Regions from separate parts of the Homo sapiens genome. Here region 1 is linked to region 2. The links come from fine-mapping of genetic effects on gene expression. A gene starts in region 2. The other region holds a variant in brackets. All regions are shown on one strand. Distances are from middle to middle.

What was found. PIP is the estimated chance that this variant, and not a neighbour inherited with it, causes the effect.
Region 1: its variant is fine-mapped to the expression of BRWD3 in lung (TOPMed, PIP 0.99).

Annotation. Positions count from the first base shown.
Region 1 is chrX:80,869,818-80,872,840 of GRCh38, reverse strand. No RefSeq gene overlaps it. Among named protein-coding and RNA genes, the nearest start is that of BRWD3, 61 kb to the right of the region's middle. The variant G/A (reference allele first, on the strand shown) is at 1,737.
Region 2 is chrX:80,808,515-80,811,014 of GRCh38, reverse strand. It overlaps BRWD3 (bromodomain and WD repeat domain containing 3), which reads left to right and starts at 1,138. Exons shown (of 41, transcript NM_153252.5): 1 at 1,138-1,574; 2 at 1,711-1,769; 3 at 1,973-2,002; 4 at 2,417-2,476. The coding sequence starts at 1,544. It overlaps LOC124905202 (a long non-coding RNA gene), which reads right to left and starts at 2,207. Exons shown (of 2, transcript XR_007068278.1): 1 at 1,722-2,207. RefSeq lists an enhancer at 824-903.

The DNA.
Region 1 (3,023 bases), 62 kb before region 2:
AGAAGAAAAAGAGAAAATATAGGACAATTGAGAGTAAAATGGAGTGGGGATGTGTTGAATGAGTATTTGTATCTTGAAAGAGGTAACAGAAATAAGAGACTTGCATCTTCATTGAATGGATATCGAAAATTTAAATGGAAGAAGTAATGGGATGGAACTAAAGATTACAGTCAGAATTTTACAGCTAGGAGTACACTCACTGTATAGATATTTTTTTAAAGCTTAAAGAAATTGGTGATTTTTCCACAGTTGTACAATTAATGAAGGAGCCAGGATTAGAACAAAAGTTTCCTGACCCTCACAGTATTACTCTTTCTACTGCATCATGCTGGAAAGGGCTATTTCGAGAGAAGTAAATTACTAATTAGCTCATCAGAATTTCAAAGGACTGGCCGGGCGCGGTGGCTCACGCCTGTAATCCCAGCACTTTGGGAGGCCGAGGCGGGTGGATCATGAGGTCAGGAGATCGAGACCATCCTGGCTAACAAGGTGAAACCCCGTCTCTACTAAAAATACAAAAAATTAGCCGGGCGCGGTGGCGGGCGCCTGTAGTCCCAGCTACTCGGGAGGCTGAGGCAGGAGAATGGCGTGAACCCGGGAAGCGGAGCTTGCAGTGAGCCGAGATTGCGCCACTGCAGTCCGCAGTCCGGCCTGGGCGACAGAGCGAGACTCCGTCTCAAAAAAAAAAAAAAAAAAAAAAGAATTTCAAAGGATACACATAAAATGCATTTGATGATGTTAGCTCAGGTGGGAAGCAAGGTTACTCAAACTAAGAAATTCACATCAAACACACTTGTAGAAAGATTTTAGTATTGTAATGCACTTTGAAGAAAGGGTAGGTACTTGAGGACTAGTGATTTAACTTTAGCTATATTATTTAAAATATAAAACAATAGGCTGGGCATGGTGGCTCACACCTGTAACCCTAATACTTTCGGAGGCCAAGTCAGGAGGATTGTTTGAGCCCAGGAGTTCAAGACCACCCTGACCAACATAGTGAGACACTGCCTCTAAAAAAATCTTTAAAAATTAGTGGGGCATGATGGTGCACATTTGTAGTCCCAGCTACTCGGGATGCTGAGGTTGGAGGATGGCTTGAGCCTTGGAGGTCAAGGTTGCAGTGGGCCATGATCACACTATGCCCAGCCTGAGCATCTCTTAAAGATGAAAAACCAATGCTGTGGCCAAACTCTCTGCCTGGATATGAAAAAGACATCCCAAGATGAGTGGGGTTGCGAAGGAAGCCATCATGGTCCTGAAAAAGAGCCTAAACCAGGCCTGCTAAGTCTGAGTTTGGAGCAGCAGAGACCCCCATTGGTGTGAGTTCCTGGAATATCACTTCCTAATAGGAGGTGAAACTCATTGAGAAGATGGATGACTACCTGACCCACCTCCACAGGCTTGCAGGCCCCAGACCTGGCTGGTCAAAAACTTCTTGTTGACAACTTGGATTCTCCCAAGCCCAGTGACCTATGACACCCAACAGCCTTCCCATGATCCTTCTGAACTGGAGGTTGTGCCAAAGCCACTTTCTCCAGTGTAAGACAGATTTTTAACCACCCTAGAACTCTCTCCTAGTTGGTCGACCAAATGAAAACAATAAAACCTCTTTTTTTTCTGCCATAAATAATATAGACAGACAGGTAGATAGGTGATTGAATAAAAAATATATATTTTAAATAGCTTTCTTAGTGCCTAGCAATAACCAATTAAAACAATATAAATTGGTGAGAGAA[G/A]AAGACCTCTTTCAGAGGTCTTAACAGAGCCCTGATATTTACCAGGCCTTGGGCAAGCCATTAAATCTCTTGGAGTCTTAATTTCCTTATCTCTAAAATGAGCATAATAAATGCCTACTACACAGAATTCTTGTGAGAAATATAAATAATACATGCAAACGTCTAGGCCAATGCTTAGCATATAATGGGTACAAAACAACATTGATCTATCTGAATTCCAGAAGAATTAACATTATTGAGTGAATTAAAATTTTAACAAGGAATATGCAGAACCTTTGTAAAGAAAATTTCACTGAAACATATAAAGGTGTAATTAAGTGAATCAAGAAACATGACAGTAGCCACTGAGTGGGATAAATGTTTATAAATAAATAAATAAAGCAAATGGAAAACAGAAAAAAGCAGGCGTTGCAATCCCAATTTCAGACAAAACAGAGTTTAAACCAACAAAGATCCAAAGAAAACAAAGAAGGGCATTACCTATAAAGGGTTCAATTCAACAAGAAGATCCAACTATCCTAAATCTCTATGCACCCAACACAGGAGCACCCAGATTCATAGAACAAGTTTTTAGAGATCTACAAAGAGACTTAGATTCACACAAAATAATAGTGGGAGACTTCAATGCCCCCACTTACAGTATTAGACAGATTAAGGCAAAAAATTAACAAAGATATTCAGGACCTGAACTCAGCACTGGATCAAATGGATCTGATAGACACCTAAAGAAGTCTCCAACCAAAAACAACAGAATATACATTCTTCTCATCCTCACATGGCACATATTCAAAAATTGATCACATGATTGGATATAAGACACTGAATGACTTTTGAGTAAATAATAAAATTAGGTCAACAATCAAGAAGTTCTTTTTTTTTTTTTTTTTTTTTTTTTGAGATGGAGTTTCACTCTTGTTGCCCAGGCTGGAGTGCAATGACGCAATCTCCGCTCACTGCAACCTCCGCTGCAACCTCCGCCTCCCAGGTTCAAGCAATTCTCCTGCCTCAGCCTCTGGAGTAGCTGGGATTACAGGCATGTGCCACCACCCCCTGGCTAATTTTTGTATTTTTAGTAGAGATGGGGTTTCTCCATGTTGGTCAGGTTGGTCTCAAACTCCTGATGTCAGGTGATCCACCTGCCTCAACCTCCCAAAGTGCTGCATTTACAGGCGTGAGCCACCATGCCTGGCCAAGTTCTTAAACCACCAATGACATTCTTCATAGAAATAGAAAAAAACAATTTTAATTTATATGGAACCAAAAAAGAGCCCAAATATCCAAGGCAAT
Region 2 (2,500 bases):
CCCACTGTGGTCAGTGGCAGAGCTGAGTGAGGAAACCCAATTCCCAAGAATATAGCCTTAAATTTAGATGAACCTTCAAATTGTAATATTTCAATGTAAATAATACATGCAACTTAAAATGCATTTCTGGTCTCATCAGGTTTAGGTGAGGGAGTGGGGTGGGGACAGGATGTTACGGGAAAGTAGGGAAGAAAAGGACCCGGTTTACTAATCTGTGTCAATTATCATACCAACCCCTTTCATCATTGAAGATTTCAGCAACCAAATACTGAAGGTCAGTGCGGTACCAAGGGTTGGGGTTATATATTAAACAGTGTAGTCCCGAACCTGTAGAAAACTATTGATACCTTGCATAGAGATAGGCAATAATACATAAAGATTATTGAAAACTCTTGGTTAAAGTACTTTAGTAGTATTTGAAAACACAATAGGAAATTACCCTGTAGGAATGGGATGTGTTAGATCCCAGCCGTAGATACGGCACGTGTTAAACTTTCAGAAGGGGAAACATGCTTCACGGCTGATTGCAAATTTCTCATGCAATATTTGTCAGAATCCAGGAGCATTTTAAGTGGTCTTCTAACAATATAAGCCCCGCACTTTGGACTGGTAAGTACAACATTTTCATTTGGTAAATAATAATAATTTTAAACAGAAACAAGTCACGACCAAATAGCGACTCATCCTCCCCCAGGCATAAAACCCTTTAGCCAGCTAGCCGCCTTTCCACGGGGTAGAGTATAAACAGCAAACAAAACCGCTTTGGTACCGGGAGGAAAAAGGGGAAAGGAGTCGAGTCAAAACACCGTCTCTTAAGTTCCTCAAGATCAACCCAGGGGGAAGGGTCCTCCACCGGAAAGGGCCGGATTGCCTTCACAGGAAGGGAAAGTCACTCCGGAGCTCGCAGACGCGAATGCCACCACAGAGTTCCAAGGCGGCTGCCAGAGCGTCGGCCGTCAGTTAGCACCTCCCCCTCCTTCCCAGAGCTGTAGCTAAGCAACCATCGGGCTCCGGGAGAGTCTAGGCTCAGCTGCTGTATTAGTGCCTCTAGCGGGGAACTATGAGCGCTGCAAAACCCTATCACCATTTTTACCCTCCCCTCTCTCCACCCCCTTTGCCCCCGCCCACCTCTTCGCCACTTCGGCTCCTCCCTCTTCTCGCTCCGTCTATCTCTCTCTCTCTCTCTCTCTCCGCCCCCCCACCCCCCGCGTCTCTCTCTCTCTCTCTCTCTCTCTCTCTCTCTCTCTCTCTCTCTTTTTCCTCTCTCTCTCTCTCTCTTCTCTCTCTCTCTCTCACTCACTCACTCTCTCTCTCCCTCTCCCTCTCCTCTCCTTCCTCCTCCGCCTCCTCAGCTCTTGGGCTAGAATATCTATGGGTCGAAACGTGATGCGATGAATTCGAGAGAGAGCGAAACTAGGACGAGGAGTGCGGCGGAAGCGGCGGGACTCCCGGGCATGGGGGCTTCACCACAATAGAGGCAGCGCCCCCACCCGCCCCCGCCAGCCCCTCCGGAGCGAAGCCCCCAAACCCCCTCGGGAAAAGGATGGCGGCAGCACCTACCCAGATCGAAGCCGGTGGGTAGCTGTGTCGGGGGGTGGGGGGGTGCTAAGGGAATGGGGGCTTAGCGCGAAGGCTGTCAGTTTCTTTTGAAAAAGCTTCTATTTCTCTTCTCTACCTCCCTCTGAACCTCTTTTCCCCCCTCTTCCCCAGAGCTGTATTACCTGATCGCTAGGTTCTTGCAGTCTGGACCCTGCAACAAATCCGCTCAGGTAAGGGGAAGAAAGAGATCTGGGAGTCGTGGTGAATGGTCCCAGTGGGGAAATCGAGGCAGCGGGACGAGCAGTTCCGTTGAGGGTGAGGGAAAGGCCGGCCTTGACTAGTCAAACGGTCAGCGGCTGGGCTTTAAGTGTGGAGGGAGGAATGGGTTGATGGCCCGAGCTGCTCCTCATATCTGTGTTTCCCTTTTGCTCAGGTGCTAGTGCAGGAGCTCGAGGAGCATCAGGTACGGAGCCCCTTCGGGAAGGGTGGGGAGGGTTGAGGTGAGACTGGAGGAAGGGGAGGGCAAGTCAGGGGCGGAAGACGGGCTGGGATAGAGGCTTCGATCTGGGTACCCGTAGCTGTTGTCACCGGGGTGAATTGGCTTCTTCCCTCAAAAGGGGCAGACAACGCTGGGGTCTTAACTCGTCCCCGCTTTATGCTTGTGGGAGGCAGTTTTTCAGGATTTCCTTCTCGACCCCCCTTCCCCCCCCCCCCCATATACTTGTCTAGCTCTGAGCCAATAGCTATCAGGCCGAGAGAAATAAAGACGGTAAAGTGTTGAGGACTGGGACACAGGTTGGGTCCAGTTGATGGGGAGCGGAGGCTTTTCCTTCATCATTTGCCTCCGCTTCCCCCTTTCTTTTCGTCCGGCCCCCAGCTGATTCCGCGCCGCTTAGATTGGGAGGGGAAAGAGCACCGAAGAAGCTTCGAGGATCTGGTGAGTAAAGTTTTCATTTCAACT